2 separate regions of the Homo sapiens genome follow, and region 1 is linked to region 2. A link means that fine-mapping ties the variant in region 2 to the expression of a gene that starts in the linked region. Tissue or cell type: fibroblasts. Region 2 holds a variant in brackets; the other region holds the start of a gene. All regions are shown on one strand. Distances are between the middles of the regions.

What was found. PIP is the estimated chance that this variant, and not a neighbour inherited with it, causes the effect.
Region 1: PAX9 starts here. The variant in region 2 is fine-mapped to the expression of PAX9 in fibroblasts (GTEx, PIP 0.90).

Annotation. Positions count from the first base shown.
Region 1 is chr14:36,656,849-36,664,952 of GRCh38, forward strand. It overlaps PAX9 (paired box 9), which reads left to right and starts at 5,012. Exons shown (of 4, transcript NM_001372076.1): 1 at 5,012-5,245; 2 at 6,049-6,675. The coding sequence starts at 5,242. It overlaps LOC105370455 (a long non-coding RNA gene), which reads right to left and starts at 1,901. Exons shown (of 2, transcript XR_943758.3): 1 at 1,696-1,901. RefSeq lists enhancers at 1-49, 5,480-5,991, 5,992-6,501, 6,502-7,012, a promoter at 3,746-4,943 and a cis regulatory region at 4,203-4,715.
Region 2 is chr14:36,949,764-36,957,867 of GRCh38, forward strand. The region is part of intron 1 of SLC25A21 (solute carrier family 25 member 21); the gene reads right to left. It overlaps MIR4503 (microRNA 4503), which reads right to left and starts at 2,628; the gene lies at 2,546-2,628. The variant T/C (reference allele first, on the strand shown) is at 3,060.

The sequences.
Region 1 (8,104 bases), 290 kb before region 2:
TTCCCACACGCAGCTGCACCTCTCCTGAGCGCTGCAGCTGATGGCTGTATAGTGACCACGGACTGCGTCCTCCTCACGAAGCTGCGCAACTTCTGCTAATGCTGCAACCCTGGCAAGACGAAATCCCCCTCCCTCTGGCTAGATCAGCCCAGCCTCCCCTCAGGGACCTTCCTGCCCCTCCCTACCCCTCCCTACCCCTAGGCCGCTCCCCCCTTCCTCTGTTGGGATCCGATCCTTGTTCGCTCTTGCAATCCCGCAGCCCGGAGTTTTGCCCCGTGCATTAAAACATGTTCTCTTTCATTTGCAGATTTAATAAACAAACGTAACCATATCACATGGAGCTCCACACTGTCCTTCTGAAAGCAATTCCGCTGTTGAAAACTGAAAAATGGGTGTAATTTGCTTTCAGAAAGTAATGTTAGGGTCACGGCAATTTCTCGGGCCGTTATTTATTTTTACTTTAAAGTCTTTAGGAAAGATTTGCTTATATGCTCGGAAAACTTCCAAATGCGCGAATACCAGCAATCCCGCTCGCCTTCAACGCGTGGGGTAAGGGGGGGTGGGGAACAATTACTGAGTGACGCTAATATGGGGAAACTGAAAAGAAATGTCGATTGTTTTTATTGTAATAGAAGGAGTGAGCAAACAGAAAAACCAACCCCGGGTGATCGGAAACAGGCAGGCGGAGAATTAAAAGCGGGTTTCAGACAGCAACAGGCCCCTCCCCTGCTCTCGCAAGGAGAAAGCGGGCGACGAGCGCTCGCAGCCCGTGGGGCTGATCCCACCTCCCGCAGGGCTCCGGTCGTGTCGCTGTCGGACCGCAGAACGCCGGGACGCATTTCCGAGCTCGGGCCCGACCCAACCCGCTGCCATTCTAGCTACCTAGTGGAGCCGCGGAGAGACTCTTGAACCGTGAGGCTCCTTGATGAGAAGGTGGAGAGGCTGCCGGGCTATTCTCCGAGCATCTTCCGGCCGAGCTCTGCTCCTCTCCGTGCGCTTGCGGCTTCTCCTTGGGCTAGCGCGTCCGCAGTCCCTCCAAGTCCAGGCCGCAGGTCAGTGTGCGGGCGCCTCCTGTCCTCCTCTCCCACCAGAGGACCCCTGAGGGCTGTCTCCATCCCCAATCCCCGCGACTGCTCCTTTTAGCCGCCATCCCCTCCCGCAGCGCAGATCCTGCAGGGGCCAGCGGTCCAGGGCGGACCCTCCCTCGCCCTGGGCGCGGGGCGAGCTTCTGGCTGTCACTTGCCGCTGCAGTTTCAGGGAAACTCAGCTGGCCGCTTACCCTGCAAGACGGGGACATAGCAGAGGGCCGAGTTCTGGAGAAGCTGGGCTTGTTTTTCTCTCTGCACCGCGCGCAATGCCCCAACTGACCCTGAAGGGTCTTGCCTTTACTGCATTTGCCCCCAGACGGCTAGAAGTCAATGCACTATGAAAATCCCAGTCCCGGACCTCGGACTCTGGCTGTCTTACAATCCCTGCAACTCCTCCGAGTGGACAAGAGGCGGGCACCGTCGCCTGGGCCTCGCTTGGGGGGGGGGGGTCCTGTCCCCAGCAGGGGGCAAGTTGGAGGAATCAGCTCCTTAATATTTTCTGCTAGCTCTGCTTGTCATAACTGCAACTCGGAATAGAACAACCTCTCTCCCGTGCATACGCACCCCCAACTCTCGCCCTATCCTCCCATCCACAGTCATCACTGACCTGTAGACCCGGAGGAGCAGGCTTCCGGGGGTCGGTCCAGGTTGGGGATACAGGGAGGGGTCCTCGCGTTCCGCACAACCTGTAGTGCTTGGGTCTGACTTCGGCAGCCCTCGGGTACAGTCTGCCGGGCTAGATTCCCGTTGCTTCTCCGCGTCTCTCCGCGGGCCGCTCTAGCGCCGGGAAGGGGGCGCCGCAGGTGACTGCCCGCGGCACTGGGACGGCTGACAGATTTATGGAGACTTCACAGCATCTGGCTGGGGTCCGCGAGGGCAGGGCGGAGTCCGGTCGATCCGATGCTGGGGTCTAAAGCTTCCCCAGCCACACGCCTGGGCCGAGTCGCCCCCAGAGTCCCCGGCCCCTGCTCCCCTTGGGCGGGTGTACACAAGGATCCGGCCAGCGCCGAGTGTACTGGTTCCTCCCACCCAGTGTAGCCCCCTCCTTCACACTCTCGGCCCGGCTTCCAGTCTCCCACTGAGTAAATATTTATCCAGAGAGCGAGTCGCCCCTCGGAGGAGGCCTCGACGCGGCTAGGGAAAGGCTTTTTGGCTTCTCCCTGGCCTGAGCCAGCTGCAGGCCTTACTGGTGTTTTGGTTTTGGTCTTAAATTTCTCCTTTTAGTCGAAATTCTTCCGATCTCTTTGAGATCTTCTGAGTCCAGAGTGAGCAGTGTAACCAGGCGGCAGACTCCAGCTGACCCTTGTTCTTGTTCTAGGTCCTGCATCCTTACATTCATCGGGACTGACCAGACCTTAGTGTTCTCTCTTTTCCTTCCTTCATCCTCTTTCTCTGCCTCAGATCCGTCGTCTCTCGGTCGGTCTCAGCGGGTCGCTGACTACCTCGCCCTAGCACTCGGTCCGCGCCCCGGGAAGGCTTCAGCATCACCCTCTTCTGCTGGGATCCCGCTGACCCTGTCTGCAGCTTCGGCTTCTCTTGCTCCCAGAGCGGGGTCTTCGGCTTGCCGCGGATACTTAGTGGCCCAAAACACCTAAAATTGACTCTTCCTGCGCTCTTGAGAATGCCAAGAGCACCCAGTACCTGCAACCGCCGGCATGAGTGGGGCCTGCGGGGAGCCGCCAGAGCTGCGGACAGGCCCCCTGCCCACTGAGTTGCTACCCCTGGCACGCCCAGGGGATCCGCAGCAGCTGAGGCCACATGGTCACAGCCAAGTTCAGCAGGTGGAAAGGGAGAGATGGCATTGAACCTATGTGAGAACTGGGAAGATGTGTGGCAGCTGAAGGAGTTGGTAGGAACAAGAGGGAGTTGTATGTTACCTCCATATAACCAGAGCTCTAAACCATATCAGTTTCTGAACCAGTCTAGGCTGGTGCTGCAGAACTGCTAAAGCTCTCGCAGAGTCCCCAGACCCCCCGCGGGACATGAGGTCTTGCCTGTTCGTATGCGAACATCCTTGTACCCGCCTAGCAGCCCTGCAGACTGCAAATTTTCCCTGGGTGCACGGAAGTAGAGCAGATTTGGCGCAGAGGTCGATACTCACTGCCTGTCTGTGAGGGGGGAGGAGGATTCCTTCCTGGTCAAGTTGCCGGGCATGTTCATTCCCTCCCGCAAGCCTAAGGCAGAGTCATAAGCTCCCCTACGATGCGGCAAAGTCTCAACTAATTTATCTACCAGCCTTAAGAAGGAGCTGCTGCTTCTAAAATCTTTAGATTTCCGAAGGCTCTCCTTGTGTAAAAATGCCAGGCGGTGCCACACGATGTCACCCAACAGGTATTGGAGGTCAGACCAGGCTGAAATTGCTATCAAGTCAAACTTCAAGAAGATTTTAAACATTTGAAACCAACCAACAAAAAGGGACAAGTTCAAGTATGTCTAGTTGTGGGATTTCCCCCAAGATTCCGATTCTAAAGAGTGGTGTTTTAGTTCATCTTTACCTTTCACATCCTCCATTCTGTTAGGTAATTTTGAATTTAGAGTGCATCCTAACCATAGAAGTGGGAATCTGGAGATCTGTTCCTTTGCAGAAGCATGGCTGATCATAGTTTTTTCCTGGGTTCTTGCAACTTACTGACCTGAGATCTGGGACCAGTCAGCTTCTCTGGGTGTAGACCGCAGCCACACACATCCCTGGGGACTGTTGGGGAAGCAGCCTGAATCCTGTGTGCACAAGGAGCCTTCTGGATTGTCAAGTAGCAGTAACAGAGTTCACGACCCCAAGCAGTACAAACTCCCAAATTCACGAAAATATTTCTCTTCTTGTTTATTATTTTGATTCACATTCTCCACAACCCTAACTGCAAATATTAATAACTTTGGCTGCAAAAAAGCATACGGTACACTTTAGATTAGACTTACAGTGAATAAAAGTGAAAATTCAGAAGTAGGCAGAACGACAGGGCCTCTGGAGCTTAATGGAAGACGAGGGAATTACATCCATGTGCAGCGTCGGTGTCCACTGTCTTGGGACTAAGTCTCTTTCATATTTAAACAAAACTCTTTCGAGAGGGCTCGCTGGTTTGGAGAACCCTCACAAACGCTGCCACCGAGGGCCAGGGGCCCAGGACAGTGGCTGAATGTGGCAGAGCCTTGGGCTCCGTAGTGAGTGCCCCACGCACTGGCAATTGGTCGACTTGGGGCTGTGCGCTAGCGTTAGCCGCCTGTGGTTCAGTTCCCCGCACACGGCGTGGCCCGTGCCTCGAGCCTGTGTGGCTAGTGGTTGGCCGGTCCACCTGGACTGGGGGGTCGCCGCAGGAAGCTGGCGGTAGGAGGAACCTCCCTGGCCTTAACAGTGGCCCCCACCTGTGGCTCGGGCTCCCCGCAACCTCCTGGTTTCTTTGGCCGGCCTATCTTCTCACACCTGCGCTCTCGCCACCTGGCATGGACTGAAGTGAGGTAGAATCGGCAGGTGACACAGATCCTCTCCTGACAGTCCCCAGAGGCCCGCATGACAGATTTTGCTAAGACAACTCCCTCACCCCTGTGCACGGTGGCGCCCGCCTCCCACCTATAGCCTTAACTTCAATTCTGAGATGTCCATCGTTCCCCGGAGGAGGTCTCCTCGGGCCCCTTCTCCCTTCGAGTCATTCACATTCAGACCAAACGCTTTCATTTGTTTATTCAGCATTTTACCAGCCTGATTTTGCTGTCTTTTTGTGCCGCTTCTGGGAAGATGTCAAACACCCATTTTCATTGTATTTAGTCACCCAGGTGGGGAGCTAGCCTGAAAGAGACAGCGGAAGGAGTTTCCTGGACTGCGCTGTCGCTCACCGACCCGCACCAATCACCATGCAGCTTGCCCTCGGACCCGCCCCTTTTAGGGCGTGTCCCCAGTGAGTGATAGACGGAGCCGCCCTGCCCTGCTCAGCCCAGCCCACGTTGCTGCTTAGATTGAAATGCAGAACTCAAGCCTCTTTCATCGGGGCACAGACTTCCTTTTACTTCTTCCTTTTGCCCTCTCGCCTCCTCCTCCTGGGAAGAAGCGGAGGCGCCGGCGGTCGGCCGGGATAGCAACAGGCCGGGCCACTGAGGCGGTGCGGAAAGTTTCTGTCTGGGAGTGCGGAACTGGGGCCGGGTTGGTGTACTGCTCGGAGCAATGGGTGAGTGGCGGCGGGGGACTCTGTCAGAGCCGGGAAGGGAGGGAGGGAGCGAGCGGGCAAGGGAGGGAGGGAGGGAGGGAGCGCGAGGGCGCGCGCCACTAGGCGCTCACATTCTCTATTGACTTTGCTCGTGTTCCTACAAGTTGTAGGAACACGCTAAGGGTCAGCGGCGCACAGCAGTTCAATGTGAACGCTGGCTACTGGGTGGCTGTTGATGCCATTTTCTGATTTTAAGAGAAGGGAGCTGTGGCATCAGCGAGCCCCTCAGCCCGAGTAGCAAACCAAGTTTTGTTTCACACGCGCGCACACATGCAAACAAAACAGGAAAAGAAAAGAAAAGAAAACAAACAACAACAAATAAAACACCCTCTAGCTTCCCCTAGACTTTGTTTAACTGGCCGGGTCTCCAGAAGGAACGCTGGGGATGGGATGGGTGGAGAGAGGGAGCGGCTCAAGGACTTTAGTGAGGAGCAGGCGAGAAGGAGCACGTTCAGGCGTCAAGACCGATTTCTCCCCCTGCTTCGGGAGACTTTTGAACGCTCGGAGAGGCCCGGCATCTCACCACTTTACTTGGCCGTAGGGGCCTCCGGCACGGCAGGAATGAGGGAGGGGGTCCGATTGGACAGTGACGGTTTGGGGCCGTTCGGCTATGTTCAGGGACCATATGGTTTGGGGACAGCCCCAGTAGTTAGTAGGGGACGGGTGCGTTCGCCCAGTCCCCGGATGCGTAGGGAGGCCCAGTGGCAGGCAGCTGTCCCAAGCAGCGGGTGCGCGTCCCTGCGCGCTGTGTGTTCATTTTGCAGAGCCAGCCTTCGGGGAGGTGAACCAGCTGGGAGGAGTGTTCGTGAACGGGAGGCCGCTGCCCAACGCCATCCGGCTTCGCATCGTGGAACTGGCCCAACTGGGCATCCGACCGTGTGACATCAGCCGCCAGCTACGGGTCTCGCACGGCTGCGTCAGCAAGATCCTGGCGCGATACAACGAGACGGGCTCGATCTTGCCAGGAGCCATCGGGGGCAGCAAGCCCCGGGTCACTACCCCCACCGTGGTGAAACACATCCGGACCTACAAGCAGAGAGACCCCGGCATCTTCGCCTGGGAGATCCGGGACCGCCTGCTGGCGGACGGCGTGTGCGACAAGTACAATGTGCCCTCCGTGAGCTCCATCAGCCGCATTCTGCGCAACAAGATCGGCAACTTGGCCCAGCAGGGTCATTACGACTCATACAAGCAGCACCAGCCGACGCCGCAGCCAGCGCTGCCCTACAACCACATCTACTCGTACCCCAGCCCTATCACGGCGGCGGCCGCCAAGGTGCCCACGCCACCCGGGGTGCCTGCCATCCCCGGTTCGGTGGCCATGCCGCGCACCTGGCCCTCCTCGCACTCCGTCACCGACATCCTGGGCATCCGCTCCATCACCGACCAAGGTAGGGGCTCAGAGGCTGGGCGTGTGGATGTGCAGCGTCTGCCCCCGCACTCTCGCGGAGGTCCCAGTATCTGCAGCCTCAGGGACACTGTCTTTCCCACCACCTGAGGCTTTTTCCTTTGGAAACGTAAGGAGTCTTCCTAGGGGGTGTTCTGATCTCATTAACTTGAAACTCATGCCCCTGGTTTCCTTGCCACACACAGTCTTCTGCCTCATCTCAAACTACCAGACCCATAACATCCCCCCATCCCCAACACATGGTTCGCATTTTCCACCCTCCCCCGCCTCTCGCGCCGAGGCAGCCTCAGCCCGGCTTGCTCACTTGGAGAGTGCGGCCGGGGCTGGACTTGGGGCGCAGCCCGGGAGGCCCGAGCCTGCTTGGGGCTGCCGGCTGCAGACTCCGCTGTGGGCAGAGCAGCTTGCTTGGGGATCACTACGGCCGGGAGAAGTCTGGCCGGGAGGAGTCCAGCACGCCTTGGAAATTGAAGTATTCTCCGATTCTGGTAATCAGGCCAAATTTGCTCAGGCAGGAAGTTCAAATGTCACCTAATTGGTTTCGTTCTTATGCTTCACTTCATTTTCCTCGGAAATGGAGGTCCCGAAGTTACTACTAGTAACTTGCATGTAACTCATTCCCAGACGAAGTCATATTCACATTCTCTCTCTCTCTCTTTCTCTCTCCATTCACTTTCTAACTTAACAGACTTCACTGTATATATCTTAGGAAGGGAAGTGGCATCAGCCACTGCAGTGATGGAGATAAAATGCAGGCAATTCCATGCTGTCCTTTTACTGTTCTTTTCAGTTTTCCCTGAGCCTGCCACTTTCCTTTGGGGTCCCCGGGTCCCCGGGTCCCCGAGAATGCAAGTGGATATCTATCTAGTTCCTGCATGTTTTAAGCAGTGCCACCCCACTGTTTCTTTCCTTTCTCACCCCTGACCTTGCCTAGTCCTAAGCGTCCTTTCTGCCTTGTCAGAAGGATTCCCCGAGCCCTCCTGCCCAGTCCGGCTTCCGCAGGAGACCTGAGTTTGTTTTCTTTTACTGAGTTTTTTTTTTTTTTTTTAAGGCGTTAACTTTTTTCTTGGTAGGGAGAAAAGAAAGTCTGAATGACCTAGATGCAGAATTTAAATAATGTGTAGATAGTCCACTTTCTTAATTTCTCAGCCTAAAGTTTTAAAAGTGTAGAGGAAAAATTAAATAGGAAAGGGGGAAATAGTTTCTTTAATTACTTCCTGCCTTTCTTGGTTGCCACCACATTGGCACAATTATCTTTTTAAGTAATTAAAGCAGGGCTCTGATTTCTCATCTTCTTGTTTTCTGACTGCAAGTTTACAAGAGCCCAGTTTTGTCTTATTTGGAGCTACTTGGAGCCATAGTTGGAGAGAGTTTGCCCTTGATTTATAGGATAAACTGACCTCACTGACATTTAA
Region 2 (8,104 bases):
AAATGGAAAACAGAGGAAACAGGAGATGCTTTTCTCAACTCTGAGACTTTTAGCCTTCAGTATGGGTTGAAGCATTTTTCAAAGCAGGCAAATAGACAACAATGGGTTTCTTCAAAAAGGTGGGGGAAGGGGCTCTGGACACATTCTGCATCCAACATGTACAAGAAAACTCTGGGTTAAATACAATTAAACAGTATTCTTTTCCAAAGTACATATCAGAGACTTTATAACGGTAATGTACAGTCTGACTCTCCAAGAAGGGGATGTAGTATGCAGAGTTCTCCAAATCTATTTAAATACTGTAAATGCTGTTCTGACAGAGCATCTTAGGAGACTAGTATTCCATAGAACATATTTTGGGAAACCTTGAACCATGTAATTTGTCGCAAGGTACCTTTATAAAACCACATGTCACCTTTCACATTTATATTATTTCTGAATAACACCCATGATTTTGTTCATTATTTATCCAATAAACTTTGATTAGCTTGTTATGGATTGAACTGTGCCCCCCAATTCATAGGTTAAAATCCTAATCCTAATGTGACTACATTTGGAGATAGGGCTGTTAAGGTGGTAATTAAGATTAAATGGGGTCGTAAGAAGGACCTTCATCCAATAGGACTAATATCTTTATAAGAAGAGGAAGAAATACCGAAGATATATTTCTTCCTGAAGGTCACATGAGAACATAGCAAGAAAGTTGCCATCTGCAAGCCAGGAAGAAAGGTCCCACCAGCAACCAACCTGCCGGCACCTTGATCCTGGATTTTTGGCCTCTAGAACTAAGAGAAAATAAATTTCTGTTATTTAAGCCACCCAGTCTGTGGTATATTGTTATGGCAGCCCTAGCAAATGAATTCACAATTCCTATTATGTTTAGGAGATGCAAACGGTGAACAGACATAGCCCCTGGCTACTGGGAATTTGCATTCTAGTTCAAGGGCAGTGTGGGAAATACTGAGTAAGTTTCTTGTATGAAGCTAATCAATTACTTGATACAGAGTCAGCAGCTTGTTTCCCCACAACCTAACATCCAACTGACATTCTTATTGCACGGGAATACTCAAATTATTTGTTTTGCAAATACCTAGCTGAAGAAATGAGCCAGCTGGACCTCTTACCTCTCTCTCATTTTCTGGAAAAACCTGGAATTGCAGCAAGGAATGCATATTCTAGGCTCCCCTCCACAACTGCTCTCCAGGAGCTCAAGGCTCTACACCCTCCATTTCCTCAGCAATGGCTGCAGGAACCACAGTGAGCCCTCTCTGCCCCCTAACTCTCCAGAAGAAAAACAAAGCAACCTGAAGTCAACCCCATCTGTCATATACCCTAGAGGCAGTCTTCTCTATCTGTTTCAGAGACAATGTTTTGGTAACTAAACCACTAACCAAAAACTACTCACTACTTCTTTAAAAATACACAAAAAGAGCAATAGTTTAACAATAGTTTGCCTTCTCTACTGCCATTACAAAAAAAAAAAAAAAACTATAACCAAATAGCCTACTTTAAAGCAATCAATTCTGTTTAGAAAGAGGATTCAAGCAACATAATACCTTAAAATAGAAAGAGAATGTTAAAAAATAATAATAAACAGGAAATGCAGGGATTGCTGACTAGTTATATTATTTCCACTATTTTTTCCACAGCACTGTCTCTAAATTATTGAACTCTCTGCATCTCAAAGCCAAACCCCTTACAAACCAATGAACAGACCTTGATTATTCTAGCCATGTTGCTGGAGCAAATAAAACAAATAGGGCCTCTCTTATCCACAGACACGTCCATTCAACAAAGTCCTTATGTCTAAATATTTGTGCAAGGTATGCATTTTTTTTTTGCAAAGAATTGTTTTGCAAAAGCATCAACAAATAATTTAAAATAATAGTACTAAAGCAATTCAATAACTATTAAGATGATCCAGTCTAGGCCTGGCTGGTGGAAATATTGCACAATTCTACACACAAACAACACAGAATCAATTCAGAGCTTCTAATACAGGCTTCTAGGTTATCCAGAGATCACAACTGCTAAGACCCTGCATTCTGAAAGCCCACAAAATGATTCGCTGGTTACATATACTACAAGTAGAGGACTCCTGCAATGACTTCATTTTTGCCCATGCTTCAGGTAGTCTTGCTTCAGGTACAATGAAAGCAGAGTAAACTTGGGCCAATAAAAGAGAATCAGGCAGGGTGCAGTGGCTCATGCCTGTAATCCCAGCACTTTGGGAGGCCAAGGAGGGCAGATCACTTAGGTCAGAAGTTCAAGACCAGCCTGGCCAACATGATGAAACCCCATCTCTACTAAAAATACAAAATTAACTGGGCATGGTGGTGCGTGCCTGTAATCCCAGCTACTCACAGGCTGAGGCAGGAGAATCACCTGAGCCTAGGAGGTGGAGGTGCAGTGAGCCGAGATTGCGCCACTGCACTCCAGCCTGGGCAATAGAGCAAGATTCCATCTCAAAAAGAAAAGAAAGAAAGAAAAAAGAAAGAATCAGAGTAGAATAAATAAATGATTGTCTTCTTTCCTTTGGTTTTTGGCAATGTAGATATTTAAGCAGGAAATAGAAACAAATAGAAATTTATATGTAAATTCTATTTCCTGCTTAAATATCTACATTGTCAATTTCAATTTGTGGGGAGGAAGTCATTTATTATTTCTTGTTCTTAAAGATTCTTATATTTACATGTCTATTGTTTCTGTTGATAAGTTTCTTAAAAGGTAGAATTCTTTTCTTAATTTTATTACTATACTATCACATGTAAATGGTCACTAAATGTAGGAGTCTCATCCTGAGCAAGGACAAATGACATTGTATTAGAAACAAACTGTAGACCGAATAAGTCTAGACTTAAAAAAAGTCCCACCATTTTCCAGATCCTTGGGGTTTAAACTGACAATTCTTGGGAATGCCATGATAAAATAACTAAGGGTAAAAACAAGACAAAACAAAAACAGTGATTCCTTAGCGTTGTGACAATAAATCCCCAAATACAAGGGTCCCATTTTTATCCAGTCAGCAAGGGTGTGGCCTTGGGCAAAAAGACTACACC[T/C]TCTGTAGCTTGGGTTTGGTTCCCAAGTTGTCATGTTTCAGGAATGAAGAACGGGATATTCAAGAAGACTTCTCTCAAATGACGGGCTATTTACAGAGCATTTAGATCTGGTTACTCATCTATCATCAAGCTGTGGCTATCCAGTGTTCTCTGGATCCTTCAGTGGTGTTGTGGAATTTGATTTTTATCATTTTGCTATTCTACCTCTGCCTCTATCTATTTAGTTTTGAGGTATCAATTGCCTGTATTATGGTCCATGTCTAAACACTGCTTTTGGTTATCAAGGGTTGAATATCAGAAAATATTTAGTTAACGATAACAAGATGTACTATAAGCTATTACTAATCAGCAATGTGCTTGAACTTTAAAATGTTTCTTAATCATCAACTTTTGAATTTCATATAAATATAGCAAGATATTTTTGGGCTGCTTTGTGTAAATGGCAGGCTGAGCTAAATAACAAAGCTCATACTAATATTTTTCTATGTAGCCCAAAAGATTCACATTGTTTATAACATAAAGATGGCATAAACAGATGATATTAATAAAATTTAGTCATACATCTCACTATATAGTCATATAGATAGCATATATAGTCAGAAATACAAAATACAAAGAAAAAGTCAAAACAGAACAAAACACGATTGTGAAGTTTATAAGTGGTTAGCTCAAAACTGAAAAAAATATGAATCCCTGCACAATGTAGGTTAACATTCAGTAGATGACAAAATGAACAGAGGTAAAAATTCTTAGATAATTTTCTTTATTTCATATCGCAAACAAATGGCTAAAAGTTAGTGTTCCTTACTGGCAGAAACTCATTTTGGCACAAAGTTTTTCAACATAAAAATTTTTTCAGCATAAGACCATAAACAGTATTTCAAATACTACATTTGCTATTAATTGGAAAGACAGAGTATAAATCTGTCACTTCGGAAATTATCATCACAATAGAGGAATTTCTTCAAAAATACTTACCACATAGGCATTTTAGACACTCTTGTGGTTAAGAAATATTAAATTTATTAGATATTTAATACATGCTTAAGTGTATATTATGTGCCAGACACTCTGAAGGGAAAAAAATTGTAAATAGCTTGGTTTTCCAACTGCCTACTGGACATCTTCACATGGAATAATTAGTTTTTTCAATAACATTCTGACTTTATTTGACATCTACAATGTATTAGAAACTGGAGAGTCAAAGGTGAATACAACATGATTCTGTAGAACCAGACTATCATACTGGTGGCCACAACCAAACTGATCGTCCCATCTCTTCTAAACCTGCTCTCATTTTTATTAATTATCATAGTCACTCAGCTGAAACCTGAAAGTCAATCTTGATGCATCATCCCCAGTAAAAAATGTCTCTGATTGTCCTTTGTAATTTCTGCCTCATGTTTCTTCTCCACACCCTTTTACGGAATTCTCTCCCTCTCATCAGGACCTCCCAACTGGCCTCTCCACCTTTGTTGTCTTTATCCTCCCCCCATCCTAGAGAAGTCCTCCTTAGCATAATCCTCGTCTGCTAAAGACTTTCCATTTCTCCTTACTAACTACAGAGGAAGGCCTGAAATCTCTAGCTTGACTTCCCAACGTCCTTGCTGATCTGACCCCAACTTAGGTTTCCATTATTTTCTTTATAAGGAAAACACATACATACATATATATATATAAGAAATAATATATATTTAATTGGAATTATATTTTTAATTGACACATAAAATTCATATATATGTATCATGTATAATATGATGTTCTGAAATAGTCCAGATCTATTGTTCAGCATGGTAACTATAGTAAATAACAATGTATTGTATTTTCAAAATCGCTACGAGAGTAGATTTTAAGTATTGTCACCACACAAAAAAATGATAAATATGTGGGCTAATGCAAATGTTAACTAGCTCGATTGAGCCATTCCATTATTTTCTGATTCCTCCACTTGTCCTTTCCTTTCCTTCCTCTACCTTTCTTCATTTTCTTTGTACCTGCAATGACTTCCCTCTACTTCCACCTATTTAAGGGAGGCACAAATTCTAGGCATCCTTTAAGGCCCAGCTCAAATATTGCCACTCCTAGGATGTTTAGCCAGAGCCATCCAGCTAGAACCAATGATTACTTCTGCATATGTACCTCCCAACCCTATATATAACTTTCTAAGGACATGAGCCACTTTCTACTTCATATTTGGGGAGTTTTTGCATGTTTTTTCTCCACTCTACTTTTGAAGCCATCTGAAAGTTATCTGTCTGATGTGTCTTTGTACCTTCCTCAAAACCTGGCCTAGTGTAGACATTCAATAAATGCTTGTTAAGTGGGTGAGTAAATGAAAGAATGAATGGGCAAACAAACTAAAAATAACTAAAGATGGACATGGTAAAATTCACTTGAATGGTATAATCATCAAAAAAGAAGAATGCACTCCATTGCTCAAGAGGTTATAATAACTAGGTATAATGGCTGACATTATGAAAGAAAGAATTTATGCTAAGTACTTGGAAGATTTTCCCAAAGGATTACTTTTGTACTGTGATAATTTCCCACTTAGTAATGAAAGAAAATTATCACTTGGACTGATACCAAAAGTTTTCCTATTTTTTGTTATAACTCTTTTTATTCATACTGGAAAGGACACTTGGGGACAAGTCTATCCTGTCATTTAGATGGCCTACTTGACTTGTTGGTCTCTTATATTTCTGGATTTTCTGATTTTTTTTTAGCCACAGGCACTGCTAGTAGCAACTCACCATTAGTCATGAAGATTTTAACTGCAGGCACATTAGAGATGACAAACCAAGATTAAAGATGTATGATAAATGTGGTAAAAGCCCCTCTCTTGATTTTTCACATCTACACATCAAGATTTGCACCTCTGGTAAGGAATACATAGGCCTAAGGTTGTTTTTTTTTGTTTTTTGTTTTTTCATTGAAGAGAGTAATTCATCTTGTGGAATGATATCTGTGAAACAACTTAAGAACTGTTGCCTGTGAGGAGGTGGGACATAGAAAACAGTTTCCACACATACACATACAAAAAGTAGGGACTGTTCAAATCCCAGCTTGGTCCTACCCTTTGGTGCTGGTCAATAAACTTGGTACCAGATATAAACAAAACATTCCATTCAACATTATGTCAACCTTCAGCAAGTAGGTCATCCATCACTGTACATTAATGTTCTGAGCACCTGTAAAATCTGATGTGCATTCTTTCAGGCCATTTTTTTCAACTTTGTGTCTGTCAGAGATACCCCCCACTATATACGTATTATTTATGTTGGGAGTAGCTTTCTAAATGTCACCCAAATGAATTAGCATCACGCTGAGCCTCGGAGTTAAGAGAGTCGCCATGTGCATTTATGTGTTTTCTCTCCCCGAATACTGACACATTTATATCCTTTCCCCGTCTGCTCTGGCTTTGGCAGAGATGCATAGTACACGCAGTTTATTTTACTATGACATGGTGACAAAATAGAACTTTATTTATGTGAAGCTGGTTAAAAATGCCCTGACCAAAAAACATGACACCAGTTAAGGAAATCTAATAAAACCTCTCGTAGAAATGGTGTAAAGTATAGAGTTTTATTTGGAACTTAATGAGGTTAGTAATGCATACTGTACCTTACTGTGTATACCAAATAACATCAGGCCAATGTGGTGGAATGTTTTTTCTAAAAAGCAGCCCAATCTCTGTTAATTTAATCAGCCATTCTTAGCTCCCTAGCATTTGCTCATTCATTCATTCGTTTATTTTTTTTGACAAAGAGAGTATTTATCACATATCTACTTTAAATAGCTGGAGAGAGATTAGGTTCATTTTTAGATACATGGAACTTCAAACCACTTTTATCAATATTTATCAGTTCCTCTAAGAATCTCTGCAGAATTAACTTACGAATAATGGGGATATCCATCAAAGCTGAAGGAAAAAAAACAGAACTGAAATTTGATTTTATGAAATGTTTGTGCTAAATGTTTTATCATCTAGCAATTATGTTTCAGTATGACAAAAAGAGATACATTCATTTATACATCATGTCATGTGGATTGGCCATGATGATAAAGAAGTATGTACAAATAATTCAAAAAAGCCCAAAATTCCTAGGTACTTCAAATTCATCTATCTATATGCACAGAAATGAATAAAACCAGAGCTTTTCGTCCAAATGCATATTGTTTTTCAATGGCACAACACTGAAAAGCTGATTGCAGATTCTAACGATGCTATTTGTTGCCAAAGTGTATTTGGTTCTTGTCTATGAGCATCATAGAAATGTTGTGGGTCACAAAAGAAAGTCCACCTCATTACTTTAGAGACACAGGTTACTCTTCCAAAGTCATTTTCCCCCTGCCCTTCTTTCCTCCACTTCCCATTTCTCTCTCATTCCTGGGCCTGGTGCAGCTGCTAGCAAAGATCCAGAGACTCAAGGAAGGGGCAATGCAAACCCAGGAAGACCCTAGGGAGGAAGAGCGGCCTTAATCAGCATTCACTGGGATGCCTGGGAAAAGCGTTCAGAGCTGATGCTAGGGTGAAACAGGCTGAATGCAGCTGGAACCCTGAGTTCCAGTCCTGGCTTGCCCATTAATGTGCTGTGTGACTTTGGATAAGGAAATTCAGCTCTCTGGATCTCAGTGTCCTCATCTATAACATAAGTGGGTTGGGAGTAGGACGGGGTACCTCAGTTGATCCCCATAGATCCTTTCTGCTTCACAGTTCTATGACTTTACAGTCCTCTCCTCAGACAAGCACCAAGTTAGAAAGCATCTTTCATCAACTGCAATGAAAATGACATAAAATCCCCACATTTGAGAAATCAATCACATTGCCTAAACAAAATTTGACTGATGAGGATTTCAAATGCAGCCGCTGGTGTAAATAGTGCATTGAAACAGCAATATTTTTGATGAGAAAAAAGTGGATGCTACATGATTTCCCTTTCAATGTAACTCACTATGTCCACTTAATAATTAGCATTAGAATAGGCTTCTGGCCAGGTCGTGAAAATAGTTTTATTTATACGCAACTTGTTCTTATAATGATA